2 separate regions of the Homo sapiens genome follow, and region 2 is linked to region 1. Evidence: fine-mapped expression QTL. A gene starts in region 1. The other region holds a variant in brackets. All regions are shown on one strand. Distances are from middle to middle. Region 1 holds the start of RPS7 (ribosomal protein S7). Region 2 overlaps COLEC11 (collectin subfamily member 11).

The links. PIP is the estimated chance that this variant, and not a neighbour inherited with it, causes the effect.
Region 2: its variant is fine-mapped to the expression of RPS7 in subcutaneous fat (GTEx, PIP 0.98).

Annotation. Positions count from the first base shown.
Region 1 is chr2:3,569,312-3,579,825 of GRCh38, reverse strand. RPS7 (ribosomal protein S7) reads right to left here and starts at 4,566. Exons shown (of 7, transcript NM_001011.4): 1 at 4,476-4,566; 2 at 4,142-4,234; 3 at 3,938-4,009; 4 at 3,196-3,339; 5 at 2,052-2,116. The coding sequence starts at 4,216. LOC124907726 (a long non-coding RNA gene) reads left to right here and starts at 4,717. Exons shown (of 2, transcript XR_007086196.1): 1 at 4,717-5,691; 2 at 8,588-10,514. RefSeq lists a silencer at 4,020-4,309 and enhancers at 3,861-4,437, 4,438-5,013, 9,723-10,328, 10,329-10,514.
Region 2 is chr2:3,601,302-3,610,558 of GRCh38, reverse strand. COLEC11 (collectin subfamily member 11) reads right to left here. Exons shown (of 7, transcript NM_024027.5): 2 at 6,089-6,244. The coding sequence starts at 6,218. Among named protein-coding and RNA genes, the nearest start is that of COLEC11, 11 kb to the right of the region's middle. The variant G/A (reference allele first, on the strand shown) is at 4,870.

The DNA.
Region 1 (10,514 bases):
GGGAATGTGAGATTAGAGGACTTTTATACATCTTTATTTTCACTTGTATTATTTCTCAACTAAATCACTACAATAACCTTTAACACTCTTGCTCATCTCCAAAACCACCCCCTTCCAATGTCAAGATAATCTTTCTAAAGCACGGATATGATCACATCATTTACTTAGCATCACAGAACTGCCAGTGGAATCTTGCTCCTCGTCTGAATATCACTACCAAGTTCAAAACCTACCTACCTGCCACCTAACAAATGAGAAGTTTCAATTAATTGCAAGCTTTTGGGGCAGCTACCATGTACCATGAGACATCAGGAGTAAGTCAAGAGACGGTTCTTTGTTTCAGCATTTAGGGAGCTGCCTTACATATGGTTATCTGTCTACGTCTCACCCCATAGTAGCTAACAATAACACTATAGTCTACTCATTTGGATTTCCTATCTGGCAGCGCCCATATACACAGTTAACATCTTCTGGTGGCTCTCAATTTTACTGCCAACATCTTAATATGTCACAGCCACAAAGGGCAAAAGCCTGAACAAAGTCCATTTCCCAAAACCCTCATCACCTTTCAGAAAGCAAATCAAGACAAACGGATTATTCATTGCGACTCATTAATTAAGCATATTCTTACAATACTAGGAAAGCACCCAAATACGGAAATTAGATTCCAATGTCATCTACAATCTTTTAAAATGGGGAGCAATGGCACCATAACTCAATCATCACAAACCACAGGGACTGGAGCGCTTTAGAGGAAAAACCCTGCTATACCCAAAAACTATCAATTTCAGCATTTAACCTGAGTTAGATAAAGATAGCTCTACTGAATAGGGAAAATAAATCTGAAAGCAGGAAGCCGGATTGGAAAAGTGGTAGAATCACTATGACCTACCAGCTAGGCTTAGTGTGAAGGCTTTCAATGTACAGACTAGGTCCCACTAGAAACACTGAAGCCATTGTCTGAGAAAATTTGGAAAACAGAGGTTTGTACTGAGGGAAACTAAAGCTATGGATTTGAGGGACAGTCCTCTGGGACTGTTCTTATACTCATTTCCTAACTGAGGTTCTCAGAACTGAGTTTCCAAAACCCTCTTTAAGTGTCATGATTTAGGGGAAAAAAATCCTAAATTCTTATGCCACTCTGCCTTTAAAAGTTTTTCAAAGTACTAAGCCATAGAATTCAAGTTCTAGAAAAGCTGGCACCTACCTTTCCACATACCACAGCTCGACACAATAACACATTACCAGACTCCCAACACTGTGTTCTAGTGGTTTTCAGAACAAGACCGAGTTAAAAAAAAAACATTCTTAGCACTACTAGTACTAGCTGCAATCAGCAAATTATCCCAGCCTTGGATCAGTTTCCTCATCCACTGAGAGTAACAATACAAATTAAACATGTTAGAGGGCACAGGCAACACTAGGATTTTTTTTTTCTTCAACTCATCCTTAGGGAAGAGTCCACAGGGATTTAATAGTTCACATTTGTAAAACAACATACTAATCAGAGACTAACAAAATACCAAAAGATCTAGTTCAAGAAGACAACTACCAATATTTGAGTTTATGCCAGATAACCTGTAAGTCAATCAAGTTCATAAATCATTTTCCATCAGCATCTTCAACTGCAGTGATATTTTAACCTGTGATGTTATCACCAAAATCCACCTACATTTTTTTACCTCCAATCCACAGCAAAAATAAAAATCAAAGATAAATCCAAGCCCATGTCAACTGTGTCTAGCATGCTATATCACAGAATTAAAGTAATGATTTCCTTCTCATCATTCCTATCCTGTGCACAAATAATCGGAGGAAATCATCTCATCTTGTGACAGCACTGACCTAGTAGGCAAACAATGGCTACATGAATACATGTATGTTTTACATCTAGAATTCTAAAACGTATCATGTGCAACTATACAGGAAACCAAATGCTGCTACTCAAAAATTCCCACTTGAACATCTGTTTTCATAAACTACAACTTAAACAAATTAAGAGTTGTTAATAAGAGGGGTACACACATTTCTGAAACTACTAAAATACTCACCTCCTGGGACGCTTTTGCTTATTTTTTGTACGGCTTTTTCGAGTTGGCTTAGGCAGAATTCTCCTCTGTAAGGTAAAAATTATCATGTAACAAAATGAAAAAAGACTTTAAATTGACAAAAAGCTGTAACTGCCATACTGCTTTAAAAGCAAGAAGAATGGCAGGGTAAGTTCAAAGTTCGAGAAGGCTAAACAACTTAGACGAACAATTGACTGAGCAAACCCTTCTATGGAGTTACTTCCTGATTCTTGAATAAATCATTCAGAATCCACAGCCTCTACTAATACGCCAGTGGACAAAATCTCCCAGATACGCCTTTCCCCATGCCTATGACCCAGAATACTACTTTTATTCCAGATCAATCCTGGCACTTCATTCCCCATAGACTTCAGTTTGCACCAATCCCCCATCCGAACTGTAACAGGTTTCTTCTTTTTTTGAGATGGAGTCTCGCTCTGTCGCCCAGGCTGAAGTTCAGTGGCGGGATCTCGGCTCACTGCAAGCTCCACCTCCCGGGTTCACGCGATTCTCCTGCCTCAGCCTCCCGAGTAGCTGGGACTACAGGCGCCCACCACCACGCCCAGCTAATTTTTTGTATTTTTTAGTACAGACGGGGTTTCACCGTGTCAGCCAGGATGGTCTCGATCTCCTGACCTCGTGATCCGCCTGCCTCAGCCTCCCAAAGTGCTGGGATTACAGGAGTGAGCCACAGGGCCCGGCCTGTAACAGGTTTCTTAGTTTGATCATCTATGTAAGCAACCCACTAGACTTGTGGAAATTTAAATATGGGAAATCATTTTCATAACTCAAAACACAGCAGTCTGTCACTTTACAGACTTCTTGTTTCGACTCTTAATTAAAGAACGTACTTTATCTTTCTTTTTAAAACTTATTTTTTCTATTTTTTGTAGACAGGGTCTTACCATGTTGCCCAGGCTGGTCTCTACAGTGATCCACCCGCCTCCACCTCCCCGTGCTGGGATTACAGGCCTAAGCCACGGCGCTCTGCCTGTACTTTATCTTTCTACCCAATTGGATTCATAAAAGGATTGTTTTCATGACTCCAACTACCAATGCAGTCTAAATACAAGCAATTTTAGCAAAATTCACAAACAGAAACGTGCTGCAACAGTAGAACAGATACCTGAGCGATAAAGACGACATGCTTCCCACTGAACTTTTTCTCCAATTCGCGTACTAGCCGGACTTGGATTTTCTGGAAAGATTTCAGTTGAGGAACGGGAACAAAGATTATGATAGCTTTCCGACCACCACCAACTTCAATTTCCTAAAGAAAAAAACAAAAATCCACTGTGTTAACTGCTTCAGAAAGTAAACGTTGTGGTCAAATTAGAGGATAAGAAGACCTTATCACTAACACCGTAGCTGCACTACAAACTAATACTAGTTTTGAGTTAATCATAAATGCATCCTTCGGAAATGTTCTCATCTCTCTCCAACCTTCACATTTCCTTATTCCAGGAAGGGAGACTGTTCAGGCCAGGAGGCCAATCACTACCACTTCTGCACCCCCACTTGCGGCAACTCCGGGCTAAGGGTAGAGAGAATCTCATCCTGAGCTCCCCACAGCTCTTTGCCGTATCTATAACTAAGTAAGGGCAAATAAGGTCCGAAATGGGCCCAGGCCCTCCCTACTCCACGTTTCTCCACCGCCCGCATGTGGACAGCTTAAGCCGCAGGGTACCTGCAACCCCACTCCCCGCACCTGGGCGGTATCACTCCCAAACAACACGGCCGAACCTGAGTTCAGGTTAGGCGGCCAGGCGGCAAGTCATCATCAACCGTAACCCAGGTCCAACCCTCTCAGGCACTGCGCGGGGAGACGCGCCGCAACCTCCCTCCCAGCCGAGGGAGCGCCAGCTTACCTTAGCTGCCGTAATATTCAGCTCCCTGAGCTGAGCCTTGAGGTCCGAGTTCATCTCCAGCTCCAGAAGAGCCTAAGAAGCAACGAACAGCAGGACCGACCCTGAGCGCGCGTCCGAGCACCCCGGGCCCAACACACGCGCGGCCGCCTCCCCTCCCGGGCGGGGCGCCTCCCCCCACCCCAGACCCCAGGGAAACCCTCTCACCTGGGAGATGCCGGACTCGAACTCGTCCGGCTTCTCGCCATTGGGCTTCACGATCTTGGCGCTCGAACTGAACATGGCTTTCTCCTGGGAGAACTGAAGGCACAGCGGTCAGCGTTACGCGGCCCGGGCTGCAGGCGCCGCTGGCTCGCCCTCCCGCCCGCACCCCCCGGCCAGGCCCCGCTCGCCCCGCAGAAGCCATCGGAAAGCACAGGGCGGGTAATCGGCTGTATCCCCACCCTGTGAGCAAGGCTCGCCCCTCCAGGGCCTGACTCCAAAAGGCGTTTTCCTCAACCCAAGAAGAAAAGTTCTGTCGGAGAGCAGGCCGCCAACCTACCTTGCCGAGCGCCGGCTTAGGAAGAGACCCAAATCTCGCGAGAGCACGTCAAAATCCGGCGTCCGAAGGCAAGAGGCGGAAACAGCGCGAGGAGGAGGGCGGAAACCGGAACATCACTGAGAAGCGGTAGGAGGCTAGAGAGTCCCAGGAAGCGGCTCTGGGGACGAGTGTCTTGGTAACGCTTTTCCGCCCTAGGATTCGTACTTTGGTGCCGTTTCCGAGCGTTCCGGTACCGGCTCCCAAGGTTCCCGTCTTCAGTGCAGGTTGCAGGCGGGAACCGGCCTCGTCCCAGCCCTGGGCCTGGGAGAGAGAAGGAGGCCGAAGAAAACCAACTTCGGCAACCTCCGGAGACAGGACGTTTAAAAAAGGCTAACTTGGCTGGGCGCTGAGGCTCACGCCTGTAATCCCAGCACTTTGGGAGGCCGAGGCAGGAGGATCACTTGAGCTCAGGAACCAGCCTGGGCAACATGGCGAGACCCCATGTCTACAAAAAAAAAAAAAAAAAAATTAGCCAGTCATGGTGGTGCGCGCCTGCAGTCCCAGCTACCCCGGAGGCCGACGCGGGAGGATCGCTGGAGCCGAAAGGTCGAGGCTGCCGTGAGCCGAGGTTGCACCACTGCACTCCAGCCTGGGCGACAGCGCAAGACCCTGTCTAAAAATAAATTTAAAAAAAATTGCGAGGCCTTCATTCTATGCTAGTACTGTACTAGGTGCTAATTATTAAGTAAAACCGACTGAACTCTTGCCCTCATGGAGCTTACAGTTCAGTGGAGAAGACATTACCTAAAGCAGTATGACTAAATATATAATGACATATTGTAATAACTTACATAACAGTACAATGAGAGGGTGGGGAGGGATTATTTATGCTTTAAGAAGTCGGGAATCCTGGAACGGAATGACATTAGACTGAGACACGGAAGAGCCGCAGGATCTATTGCTGGGGAAGAGCATTCCAGACAGGGAGGAACTCGTGCCGAATGATCCCGCTGTGGACAGGGAATTTAATCTGAGCTTCGGTTTCCTCTTCTGTCAAATGTCATGCAAGAGTTACTTTCAGCCGTGGTCCAGGCACTGTGAAAAATGCAGAAGCCACACTAGGTGCCCTCTCTCAGGATTCCCAACCACCTTTACCAAGCAGAGATGGTATTCATCCCACATTTTTAATGCTAGATATGCTCCCGCCCGGTGCTTCTCTAATAATGTTTTTTAAAAGGTAAGTGACTGTCTCCTTGGAAAATTAAGGATAACTTGAAGTTTCTTCCAGATAGAAAGTAAACTACAGCTGCGTCTACAATCTCATCTGGGCAGTCGTTCTGAGCCCTTTTGTCGAACTAGGTCCATTTCCTTACTCCACATGCACTTTTCGACCTGGCTTTTATCTCTGCTGCTCTATAAAAGTAGTAATCTAAAAGTTCATCCAGTAAAGCTTTTTCTCTGTGAACCTATCACTTGAGAACAAAAAAAATTAAAGTTATTTCTGGTTTCCAGTCCTTTGTTGAATAGGAGTGGTGAGCAAGGACATCCGTGCCTTGTTCTCCATCTTAGGGGAAAACCATTCAGTCTTTCACCATTAAGTATAATATTAGCTCTAGGATTTTGCAGGTATTTTTAATCAAATTCAGGAAGTTCCCTCTGTTTCTATTTCTGAGAGGTTTTTTTAAAATCATGGGCCGGGCACGGTGGCTCACGCCTGTAATCCCAGCACTTTGGGAGGCCGAGGCGGGTGGATCACGAGGTCAGGAGATCGAGACCATCCTGGCTAACACGGTGAAACCCCGTCTCTACTAAAAATACAAAAAATTAGCTGGGCGAGGTGGCGGGCGCCTGTAGTCCCAGCTACTCGGGAGGCTGAGGCAGGAGAATGGCGTGAACCGCCGGGGGCGGAGCCTGCAGTGAGCCGAGATCGAGCCATTGCACTCCAGCCTGGGTGACAGCGAGACTCCATCTCAAAAAAAATATATAAATAAAAAATAAAATAAAATCATGAATGGATGTTGGAGTATGTCAAATGCATTGTTTCTATGAACTAATATGATTATGTGAGTTTTTCTTTTTAGCTGTTAATGTGCTGTTAATATACATAAATGCTTTTCCTTTCTAACTCTTTAGCTTTGAGCCTCATGAGATCCTAAGAAATGTGATTTTTAAAACCTAGAACCTGATAGAAGTTGATAGAGGTTGCACATGTATTTTTAATAGGTAGTTTCAGGATCATAATCACAACTTAGAGGGTCATTCTACTAATTTTATGTTAGGAAATGCCTACTAATCATTACATTAGATTGTTTTCCTGGTTTTACTAGTACTAGCTTCTTTATTATTTAACCATACAATAAGTGAGTCGATAATACCAACATGATTGACAATGAACAGAAATATCATCTATGCAATCCACTTACTTTTAGAACACTTTGTTAACTCTTTTATGTATCATTATGGACATGGGACATTTCAGATTTGCTGTACATCAATCAGTCTCAGCCAATATTCTCCTTTGATCCTCAAATTGTCTCAGTTGTGACCAGGAGGGGCCCCTCTTAGATAAGCAGCCGAGTCTTGTCATTTCTATGAATGTCTGAACATCTTGTTTTCTGGCACAAGATATTCCAGGCTCCTCTTGTAATTTTCTGCCTGAGACATAGAATGAGCCTTTTCTCCTAGAAGTGCTGATACTTTTGTTTTTGTTTTTCTGGAAAAATAGTACTGGAGACCAGAATTTTGGCAGCAGGAGGCATCGTGGGGCTCCTCATAAGCCGTTTCAGCGGACAGAACTTAGAAAGATGGCATTTAAAATAATTTTTTCATAAAAGATACAAGTTCACATTGACATTCTCAATCCACTTCTAACAGAACAATTCCTTCTGAAATCCTCGATTCTATCATAGCATCTCCTTTTCTCCTGTAATAAAAACCTTGCTTCCTAAACACAAAAATACAATTACTTGCTTTATCTGACACTATGAGAAAATACATTCAAAATAACAATGCAGGTGGGCCGCAGTGGCTCACACCTGTAATCCCAGCACTTTGGGATAATCCACCCAGGGTGAGTGGATCACTTGAGGTCAGGAGATAAGCCTGGCCAACACAGGGAAACCCTGTCTCTACTAAAAATACAAAAATTAGCCAGGTGTGGTGCCACCCGCCTGTAATCCCAGCTACTCGGGAAGCTGAGGCAGGAGAATCGCTTGAACCTGGGTGACATGAACTCCTGACCTCATGTGATCTGCCCACCCTGGCATCCCGAAGTGCTGGGATTACAGGTGTGAGCCACCATGCTCAGCCCTTGTTGACTTTTGAATATGTGAAACACTCTGCTTCTGAAAGTCAAAGCCATCTAAGGAGGTCACTCCCTTGAGAAGGCCACACTCCACCGGCCCCTGCCTTCCCTCCTGCACCCAACCTTGCTTTCTGGTTCATGCTTCCTGGGTTTCTTTTTGCTTGAATGTATATTTTCTTACCTCTCCTTCATTCTTACACAAAAGCAGGATTTGATTTTTGCATTTTGTGTTCGCCTAAACATATTTCCTGGAAATCCCTCCATGTCAGTTCAGGAGACCTCCCTCATGCTTTTTCACCACGGCGTCGCTCTCCGCTGGGCTGTCAGACCACTTTCACCCAGCCCGTGTTCTGTGGAGACACTTGGACTGCATCCGAGTCATACTCAACATTTTGAAATTTTAAACAATGCCCCACAAATAAACTTAGGCATATGCGTTAGGATGCTTTTGGAGCAGCCCCTTTGGGATAAATTTCTAGAAGTGGGATCTCAGCCTCAAAAGGTAAAGGCATAAGTAATTTTGTTACGCATTGCCACCTTCCCTTAGAAAAGCGCTGTGCGTCATATGGGAATTCTTGTTTTCCCACAGCATTCCCAACAGAATGTGTCATCATACTTTTTAATTTGTTTCTATCTGACAGGTGAAAAATGAGACCGCAATGTAATTTAATTTGCATTCTCTAATTCAGAGTGAAGTTGGCATCCTTCCATGGGTTTCATACGTTCAAGGACCATTTTAAAGCGTTTTATACGTTTTTGTGTGATTGTTTTCTGCTCATATTTTAACCATTTTTCTTTTTTCTTTTCTTTTTCTTTTTTTTTTTTTTAGGTTGAGAGCAGAATTTTAATAGGCAAAAGAAAGAGAAGAGCTCTCTGCTGCAGACAGGAGTCCTGGAGAAATGGGTTGCCCTCTTTTTTCTTTTTCTTTTTTTGAGACAGTCTCTCACTGTCACCCAGGCTGGAATTCAGTGGCGCATTCGTACCTCGCTGCAGCCTCAACCTCCTAGGCTCAATCGATCCTCCCACCTCAGCCTCCCGAGTAGCTGGGACTATAGATATTTAACCATTTTTCTATTGAGATTTGGTCTTCTCCACCACCCACCACAGATTTTTGTAATTAGAGGTCATTTTTCCAAACAAATGATTCTTAAGGTCCTGCTGTCTCTGAATATTATTTTTATAGAACAAGCATAAGTATAATTGGATCAATCATCTAACCTTTCAGATCCTCAACTTAGTCTTCCATTAATGAGAGGATTAAATCCATTAGTTAAATGTTCTCTAAGAATCAGTGTGTCTCCAACTTCAGTGTACAAACAGCGGGTCACCCAGGGATCGCAGTGGGACGCAGACGCTGATTCCGCAGTTGTGGACTTGGTGGAGGTGGGCGCTGTCTCAGTCCATCTGGGCCGCTATACAGAGTGCCACAGACAGAGTGGCTTACGGACAACAGATGCTCATTTCTCACTCTCTGGAGACTGGAAGCCCAAGATCAAGGTGGCAGAAAATGCCGTGTCTGAAGAGGAACTGTTTCCTTGTTCACAGCCTCTTCTCACTGTGTCCTTGCAGAAGGGCTGAGGGAGCTCTCCAGGGGCCTCCTTCATAAGGGCACTCATGCCATCGTGGGACTCCACTCTCACGACCTCATCACCACCCAAAGACCATCACTTTGGGGGTTAGGATTTAACATGTGCACTTTGGGGGGACACACACATTCAGTCCACAGCAGCTCCAATATGTTGCATTTCTAATTAGCTCACAGGCAATGCTGATGATACTGGTCCAGGGACCACACTTCGAGTAGCAACAAACCAGATAGCCACAAAGAGGAATTAATAGATGTAGCATTAAGGAAGAAAGATTCCTTCCAGTGCCAAGGAAACTCATCACAGTACCTCCAATACCGTGTCATCCTGGAGGGACCACAAGACCCTGGATAGTTGGCCCAGGACAGAATACTGCTGGGGGTTTGGAGGGTGGCAGTTAAAAAGCCAAGATCTGTTTACCTGTTAAAATATATATTCTTGCCCTCTCCCTCTCCCTCTCCCTCTCCCTCTCCCCACGGTCTCCCTCTCCCTCTCTTTCCATGGTCTCCCTCTGATGCCTAGCCGAAGCTGGACTGTACTGCTGCCATCTCGGCTCACTGCAACCCCCCTGCCTGATTCTCCTGCCTCAGCCTGCCGAGCGCCTGCGATTGCAGGCACGCACCGCCACGCCTGACTGGTTTTTGTATTTTTTTGGTGGAGACGGGGTTTCGCTCTGTTGGCCGGGCTGGTCTCCAGCTCCTAGCCGCGAGTGATCCGCCAGCCTCGGCCTCCCGAGGTGCCGGGATTGCAGACGGAGTCTCGTTCACTCAGTGCTCAATGGTGCCCAGGCTGGAGTGCAGTGGCGTGATCTCGGCTCGCTACAACCACCTCCCAGCCGCCTGCCTTGGCCTCCCAAAGAGCCGAGATTGCAGCCTCTGCCCGGCCACCACCCCGTCTGGGAAGTGAGGAGCGTCTCTGCTTGGCCGCCCATCGTCTGCGATGTGAGGAGCCCCTCTGCCTGGCTGCCCAGTCTGGAAAGTGAGGAGCATCTCTGCCCGGCCACCATCCCATCTAGGAAGTGAGGAGCGCCTCTTCCCCGCCATCCAGCCCATCTAGGAAGTGAGGAGCGTCTCTGCCCAGCCGCCCATCGTCTGAGATGTGGGGAGCACCTCTGCCCCGCCGCCCCATCTGGGATGTGAGGAGCGCCTCTGCCCGGCCGCGACCCCGTCT
Region 2 (9,257 bases), 31 kb before region 1:
CCACGGTCCAGGCCAATAGTGATTGTGGCTGAGATGAGGGCGGAAGAATGTTTCCTTCATAAAGCATTTCACACCGCCTACATGACAGCAGTCTGCTCTTTCTCCCACTGGCTGAAAACTCTGAGAAGACACAGCTCCATCTCACCCAACCCTCGGTCCCCCAGAGCACCAGGAAGAAGGCGGGTGCTCCATCAGTACTCGTAAAGAATTAACACTAAGCAGGTCTGCCAGCTCTTCTCATACTGCTTAAGAAAGCTCCTGGAGTTTGTACACGGCATTCACTTATTTGCATAATAATTTCACCTCTCCCCCTACATGGGGCGGGCACTATGTCCACTCTAGAGGTGAAGACACAGCTACGAGAATCAAGTGACATGTCCAAGCTGGGATGTGCTGGCACGCCAGTGTGTCTTTACCACACCTTGCTCAGGCTTCAAAACCCCAGAGCGAGACTCACTAACCAGCATGACTACTCACCCTCGTCTCCTCTCCTCCTAAAGATAAAGCAGTAAGGACAAGTTTGTCATGATAGCTTCTGACCAACCTCCACCTGCATCCATCTGCCTGTCTCTAATCTGATTTTTAAAAACTGGTTGGCCAGGTGCAGTGGCTCATGCCTGTGATCCTGGCACTTTGGGAGGCCAAGGCAGGAGGATCATTTAAAGGCAGGAGTTTGAGACCAGCCTGGGCAACACAGCAAGACCCCATCTCTACAAAAAAATTAGCAGGGGTTGGGCATGGTGGCTCACACCTGTAATCCCAGCATTTTGGGAGCCCAAGGCGGGTGGATCACCTGAGGTCAAGAGTTTGAGACCAGCCTGGTCAACATGGTGAAACCCCGTCTCTACTAAAAATACAAAAATTAGCCAGGCGTGGTAGCGGGTGCCTATAATCTCAGCTACTCTGGAGGCTGAGGCAGGAGAATCGCTTGAACCCAGGAGGCAGAGGTTGCAGTGAGCCAAGATCACGCTATTGCACTGCAGCCTGGGCAACAAGAGCGAAACTCCATTTCAAAAAAAAAAATAGCAGGATGTGTTGCTGTGCACCTGTAGTCCCAGCCACTCAGGAAGCTGATGTGGGAGGAGCTCTTCAGCCCAGGAGTTGCAGGCTGCAGTTAGCTATAAGTGCACCACTGCACTCCAGCCTGAGTGACAGAGCAAGATCCTGTCTCTAAAAAAAAAAAAAAAAAAAAAAAAAAAAAAAAAATCAAAGAAAAATAGTTCATAGTAACAACTGGAGGCACGGAAAGAGACCCTGAAAAGCACCACACATTACACTGTGTCCCACAAACTCTCGTTACTAAAGCAGGAGAGAAAGAATCATAAGTCATTAAAAACAGCAAGACTTTCTAAAGAAGAGGATTTAACACACGTTTTCTTTATATCTCTCAGCTAATCACAAAATCCACTTACATGCCATCTCCCAAGGGCTCTGCTTAATGGACCTGTGTCTGTAGTTGTACAGGGCCAGGCGCATTTCAGCCAGTGCTGGGCAGCAGGCACCCCAAATGCCTCACGGCTGTGCCTGCAGTGTGGGGAACCCAAACCTGGAGTCAGAAACTGCTTTCCTTCCTGTGCAAAACCCAGCGTAAGCCCTCCCAGCCTGGTCCTCCTCAGCTCTGATGGGGATTGAACAAAATATGCCCTGGAAGACACCGTGCTGGTTGTCACGAGAAAAAGTATTTTAATCCCTGGTTCAGGACCAACAGCACTGAGGACCAGAGAGTACAGAGGCCTCCCATCCACGGCGGGGCTGCCCTGGTTTCTCCACGGTCCCCGTCGCCTCCGCCTTGTAGACTTGCCCTGTCCACGCATCTTAAGAACCAAGGCTGTTTTCAAGCACTGTTCACAATTTGGCAGGGTTGTTTTTTTGTTTTGTTTTGTTTTTGTTTTTTGTTTTCCAGAGATGGGGTCTTACTCTGTTGCCCTGGGTAGACTCAAACTCCTGGGCTCAAGTCATCCTCCCACCTCGGCTTCCCAAAGTGCCGGGATCACAGGCGTGACCCACTGCACCTGGCCAATTTGGCAAGGTTTGAAGTGTTCATTGTCCACTGGTCCCAGGGGTCATAAAGATGTATGTCCCTGCAGGTAATGACTCCAGAGCAGGATTTCTATACACGTCCCCACTCAACACTCCATGCATTTTGTAATGTAGACCCAGCGAGCACAATGACATTTTTCCCACATCCTTTTCATTTTCAGGATGATTGACTACATAAAGTTCTAATGACAAGTTATTTCTCTACCAGGAGAGGCTAACATTTCAACTGCTGGCTCACTTCCACCATCACCACAACGCAGCTCTCTCCTCGCTCAAAGAAACAAAACGTGGCTGACATTTACTGTTTGCTTGGCTTCCCTGCAAATCATGTACAAATCTACGAACAAAAAGCTTTTACCTAGATCGTATTTGGGGTCATTTCCAACCCAGCTAGGAAGGCGCATGTCAGTTATTTTATTGAGAACCTAAGATACTTCGACATATTTATAGCCAGTTGAGGAAGATCCGTGGACAGTGCTTGACTGTCACGCCACCTGCTTACAAGCTGAACAAACTCGTGTGCCAGCGACTTCACATCCCTGCTGGCCACAACAAGTGCCACGGCACCCCAGGGCCATGGGAAGTCAGAGAGGAGAAAGCCAGGACCTCAGCCTGCCTGGCTTGTTCTACACAAGGGGAGACGGCACAGACAGGCCGTCAGGTGTCAGAAGAGCAAACCTCCCACAGCGCATGTTATTCAGGCCCCATTACTGGTTTTATCAATGTTGTTTTAAAGAATGGCAGTAAATGATTTTAAAATTAATTTGATAGGCCAGGTATGTTGGCTCACACCTGTAATCCCAGCACTTTGGGAAGCCAAAGCGGGTGGATTACGTGAGGTCAGGAGTTCGAGACCAGCCTGGATAACATGGTGAAACCCCGTCTCTACTAAAAATACAAAAATTAGCCGGGCGTTGATGGTGCGCGCCTATAGTCCCAGCTACTTGGGAGGCTGAGGCAGGAGAATCACTTGAACCTGAGAGGCGGAGGCTGCAGTGAGCCAAGGTCGCACCATTGCACTCCAGCCTGGGCAACAAGAGAGAAACTCCATCTCAAAAAAAAAAAAAAAGCAAAAAAAAAATTCATTTGATAAAGCCTATAAGAAGAACTATGACCTTTCATATTTCTGGGAAACACATTTGTTAATACAGATAAATGTTTTCTCACCTACAGCCATTTTTTTAACCATTAAAAAAAGACTTTTTTCCCATTAAAAGGAGTTGTCATTCTCTCTAAATGTAAAGACAATATATTATTCCCTCTAAATGTAAAGATAATATATTATTATTATCTGAAATGGCCTGGAATGGCAAATAAATGTCATCTCAAGCACCACCAGCAGTCAGCGGCAGCCTGACTCGTGTGCTCAGGAAGATTCTCCAGCCAAATGTGGAGTTGGCAGAGGTTTCAGGATCCAAAACACAGGGGGTTGTGGGGGTTGGGGGGGCGGCGCGTGCTGTGTTTCTCAGACCAGATGCCACCCCGTGTCCGGGGCCGAACGGCGGGACTGTGAGGAGACAGGCCGCGGCTTCTTCATCCCAGCCCTGAGCCTGCCTGGTGGATTCTCAACGGACGCTTGTCTAATGAATGGTGACTGCGTGTGTGTCTGTTTCCTTAGAAGCTGGCACTGTGCCGCACGCTGCCTCTCCTCTTTGACCTCCAGCGACCCTGGGGGGCTACGGCACATGCTGGGGCCGGCAGGGATGAAGTCTGCTGGCACACACCATTTTCTCCATTGAGTAACCCAATTCCTGACATGCTGGGTATCCTGAATCCTTCTAAACCGCTCCTTGCCCCTGGTGCTCGCCTCTCGCTTGCGGACTCGCGGGGCACGTGCTGGACGGACACCTGATCTGCTCCCTGGTCGGGCTCGCTGCCTGCACAGGGTTAGTGCTTTGTAAGTCACTGTCCCAGAGCAAGGAGCAGGGGCTGGGTCCCCGGTCACTGTGTGCCCACTCCTGGTGCCACCACTGCATCCCCACAGAGCCCCAAGCTGGCATCGCCTCCCCAACCTCACGGACCAGGAGGCCGAGGCTTGGGAGGACAGGTGACCCGTCACGCAGGACGGCTGACCCACAGCACCCTCAGACCTGCCCTACTTCCCAGCCTGCAAAGGTTGAGAAGGGACCCTACCCATGTGGGAAATGACAGCACATCCAGGGGACCCAGGACGTGGACAGCTGGGAAGGACCCTCCCAACAGCACCTGGGAAAGGCGGCGCCCAGAAAGGACCCTGGAGCCCACCCCACGGCCCCCACCAGTGCAGGCTACTGACCTGGCAGGGCGCAGGGAAGACAACCGTAGGGACTCGGAGGCACCCACCACATTGGGCAGGGACGTGACCTCCACAGCCAAAAGTCCAGCTCTCCACAGCCACCGTTTCCAACCTAAAGCTGAAGGTTCCACTCACAAACCCACACACGCTACCACAAAGTCAGGGCCAAAGCCACTTTCACCAAAACTTCTGAGAGAGCCGTAGGCATCCAACAGTTTAAGTTGCTTCCAACATAATTAAACATTTTCTAAAGCAGGTACATTTATCACAATTAAAAGCACAAAGGCCACTGGGCTTGTCTGGGCTGCAGGACAGTCCACTTGGTTTCCAACAGCAGGGCTAACACAGCCGGAAAAAAGCCCCCAGCCAGAGCTGCACAGCCTGGCAGGGTGGCCCCGAGCTGTCCGGACCCTGTGCCCCGGGAGAGGGCTGACCTTTTCATTTTGTACAACACGGGCTGAGCAGGGTTTGTCTTTCGTGGTGACTGTTTTGATCATGGGTTTGAATCTACTTTTCTCTAATGTTTCAATAAAAAGAGCCGCAGACGCTCCACA[G/A]GAGAAGCTGAAGGCCCAAGCGGACCGCGGATGAGGAGGGGGCGGACCGGATTCAGGTTGCAAAAGGTCAATGTGCCCCTCCCCCTCCTCAGGACCCACGTGACTCCCCTCCCCTCCTCAGCACCCACGTGACTCCCCTCCCCCTCATCAACCACGTGACTCCCCTCCCCCGCCTCCTCAGCACCCACGTGGCCGCCCCTCCCCCTCCTCAGCACCCACGTGACTCCCCTCCCCTCCTCGGCACCCACGTGACTCCCCTCCCCTCCTCGGCACCCACGTGACTCCCCTCCCCCTCCTCGGCACCCACGTGACTCCCCCGCCCCCTCCTCGGCACCCACGTGACTCCCCCGCCCCCTCCTCGGCACCCACGTGACTCCCCCGCCCCCTCCTCGGCACCCACGTGACTCCCCTCAGCGGCGGCCTGGACTCTGCTGCGGCCGGTGCAGCCCCGGCCCTGCCACCCGACACTGGCACACACTCTGCTGTCCCTTCTTGGGTTCTGTAATTTTGAACAAGGGGCCCACATTTTCATTTCACACCGGGCTCCCCCAGGCTTGGGGACCTGTTGCCTCTGCTTTGTAGAAGCTGGTCATTTTCTTACTTGAAGATGCTGCTCTGGAGGCTTCAGATACCGCAGCCTCAGGGACTTTCTCACCCATGCCTCACCTGCAGAACTATCTCTATCCGGGAGCAGATTACAGACAAAGCAACAAGAAAAAAAAAAGTTCCTGTCTTTTTTTTTTCCCCTAACCACTAGACCACCAGGGATTTTTTAATTTTTAAAATAAAATATTAAGAGCTCTCAGGAAGCAATGTAGAAGCACACTTTGGGAACTTAACACAAGTTGCAAATTTTCTCTGACCCTCAAATTTCCTTATCTGTAAAATGGTCCACATGAGATCATCTCATGGGGAGGATCACACGAGGCCATGTGTGCAGGGTCTGACGGAAAGCCAGGTGCCTTCCAGCAAGGTCCCCCCGGAGAGGGCTGAGTTGCAAATAAATTGCCATCTTCAGAATTAGGAATTCCATGGCCGAAGACAGTTTAGACATCATGTCACCCAACCCTTGATTTCCAGATGGGGAAACTGAGACCCAATGGGGTAAGCAGATTTGCTGGGGCTTTGTGCTTTTCCGTGGAACTGCGCAGTTGCATGGGAGTCTCTCAGCTGGCCCGGAGGCCACTGCCCAGCAGCCCAGAGTCCAGGGAGCGGTTACCTTTGAGGCCAGGGACGAGGATCTGCACAGAGCAGGCGTCATCGCCAGCCGGCTGAGGATGTCCAGATGGCAGCAGTGACAGGAAGGCCAGGCTGATTAGAACGCCCACCAGGGCCAGATTCCCCCTCATCCTGAGCGCAGGCAGGACACCAACTCCTACACAGAGGAAGGAATAAACAGTGATGGGAACTGCAACAGCCGGGCAGCCAGTGACAGTGAGCAGGCCTCGGAGGCAAGGGGTGTAGCCCTCCTGGTGCCTGGAAGGGCTGTCTGGGCCCCCATGGCGGGTGCTCCTCACTCACTCAAGCACCAATCATGAGCCTCCACTGAGAAGCTTCCACAGCAGCCCCAGGGTCAGCACCAGGCACCAAGTGCATGCCAGCCCTGGTCAGTGAGCCTTGATTGAAGGCCTACGGCTCGCCCACCCCAAGGAGTTCGATCTGATCTCTGGGACAAACGATTCCTACACAGAGTGGAGTAGGGGTCTCCACACAGCATAGCCAGCCACAGACATGGAGCCTCTGCAGAGCTGGGCACAGCGGAGGGAGGCTGAGATACAGCTAAAGGAAACAGCCAAGGCGCCTGAGGAGCCCCAAGCTTAGCGGCTCCATTCACAGACAAGGAATCCACGCCCCCACATCTCCTTAGGTGGCAGGAGACAGGCACCTGGCCTTCCTCGGTGAGATCAGTAAGGAGAGAGGAGCCCCGGCCTTAGGAACCCAGGGGCCTGGGGAGGTGGGGGCCGAGCCCATAGGAAGAGGGGTGTCATGGACATCTGACCATCCCAGGAGGGGCGGGTACGTGCTGACCTCTTTGTTTCTTCATCGTGAAGGGCGTTACAACTTGGAAAACAAGACCAGGCGCAGTGGCTCACACCTGTAATTCCAGCACTTTGGGAGGCTGAGGTGGGCAGATCACCTAAAGTCGGGAGTTCGAGACCAGTCTGGACAACATGGTGAAACCGCATGTCTTCTAAAAATACAAAAATTAGCTGGGTGTGGTGGCGGGCACCTCTAATCCCAGCTACTTGGGAGGCTGAGGCAGGAGAACTGCTTGAACCCAGGAGGCGGAGGTTGCAGTGACCTGAGATCACGCCACTACACTCCAGCCTGCATGACAGCGAGACTCCGTCCCAAAAAAAAATAAAATATAATAAATAAATAAAACTCGGAAAACAAAGAGGGCAATGGAAACTACTCAACTTGAAGGGAGAGGCCCGGGAAACAGAGGGAAAGGGACAGGAGGGGAGAGAGGGACAGGCCAGAAGGGCAGAGTGCGGACAGCAGCCCTGGAGCACAGCTGATAAAGAGCCGTGGCGAGCTGGGACTGGGGCTCCGCAGAGCATGGAAGCCACAGGAGCATCTGTCCATCCCAAAGGCCATGCTTCCGGATACTTCCTGGCAGCCTTTCGTTTGGTTAATCATTCGTTCAGAAACATTTGTGGATGCCGACCAAATGTCAGGCACAGCTCTAGGCACCAGGAGTAGAGCAAGAACATTTATGTTTTTATTCCTATTGGAAGAGACAGACAGACAGACAGACAGAGACAGACAGAGGCAGGGGTAAGCGCCGTGGGGAAGAGTGAGGCAGAGTCCAGTGGCCGGGACACATGCTGCTGTTCAGGATGGTTGCCAGGGAAGCCTCGCTGACAGGTGGGTGAGGGCGGCTCAGAGAAAGCCTTGAGGCAGTGCATGCCGGACAGTGCGGGGAGAGGTGGGCTGGCCTGGTGGGCACAGAGGACAGGAGACAGGAGCCGGCGCCCAGCAGCTTTGGGGGTTGCTCTGTATGAGACAGAGGGTCTGGATCAGCGAGCGGCTTTACAAAAGGGTCTCCCTGCTCTTGAGACGGGACTTAGGGGAACAGCAACGGAAGCAAGGAGACCAAGCCAGGGTGACCACAACAGCACAGCGGGCGAGGATGGCAGCTGGACCCCACGTGTGGGTGGAGGTGATGACAGAGGTATGGGATGCAGTCTGGAAGCAAAGCTGACAGGTTTTGCTGATCAGTTATGTGGGAAATGACAGAGAGAAATCAAAGATTAAAGCTTTTGTTCTGAGCAGCCAGGTGAACAGTGCAGCCAGCTGCTGAGAAACAGAACTGAGGAGGTGAAGTGAAGTCAGGGGCTCGGGTTCAACTTTCCGAGTCTGAGACACTATAGACTCCTATGTGACCCAGTGGGTGGAGCAATGGTTCGGTTTGCAAGGCTTGGGGGTCAGGGTACCCTCCATTTTCTCTCCCACAATTCCAAGCCAGCTGGCCCTCTCAGGTCCAAAATGAAGGTCACCTTAGCTGCTAGAGAAAGGCCATCTGTGGTGGGGGGCTTCCCACATCAACAGCCCCGTGAGAGCCCTGCTACAAAAGCCAGGGGAGGGTGGTCCGGACAGATCCCGAAAGCCAGGGCCCCATGGAGTCTACAGAGACCCCGCCTCTGGCTGGCGAGAGCCCACCTTTGCCACCTGATGTCCTGCTGCACGAGGAGTTCTCCCAGAAATGTGTGGAGGTCAAGATGCCCAAGATAGCCCTGCAGCTCGAAGGGAAGTCATTTGAAATCCTTCTCCCAAATCTGAAAAAAATCGCCTCCAATGGTCACAGACAAAAAGATGACGTGGAGACGGCTAGGGTTACTGCCATGAACATTCCATGTTAAATGTCCGTTTCCACTGAGGCAAGGGTTGATGAAGGGGCGGGGCGGGAAGGGAGAGAGGATTAGAGTTAGGGCGGAGCCAGGGCTTGGGCACGCGCGTGGGAGAGCTTCACTTGCCGAAGATGACAGAACTTAAATCCTACCTCTGTGAAAACCTACAGACCTTAAAGCTGAAGCCGTCTCTCATCCCGGATGTCCAAGAATGGCTCGGGGGAAAAAAGGTACTATAAAGCACAAAGTCACAGTGGCTCACGCCTGTAATCCCAGCACTTTGGAAGGCCAAGGCCAGCAGATTGCTTGAGTCCAGGAGTTTGAGATCAGCCTGGGCAACATGGCTAAACCCCATCTCTACAAAAAAGCAGCCAGGTGTAGTGTCACGCACCTGTAGTCCCAGCTACTGGAGAGGCTGAAGTGGGAGCATCACCTGAGCCTGGGAAGTTGAGGCTGCAGTGAGCGGTGATCACACCACTGCACTCCAACCCGGGCAGTCAGAGTGAGACCCTGTCTCAAAAAAAATAATAATAA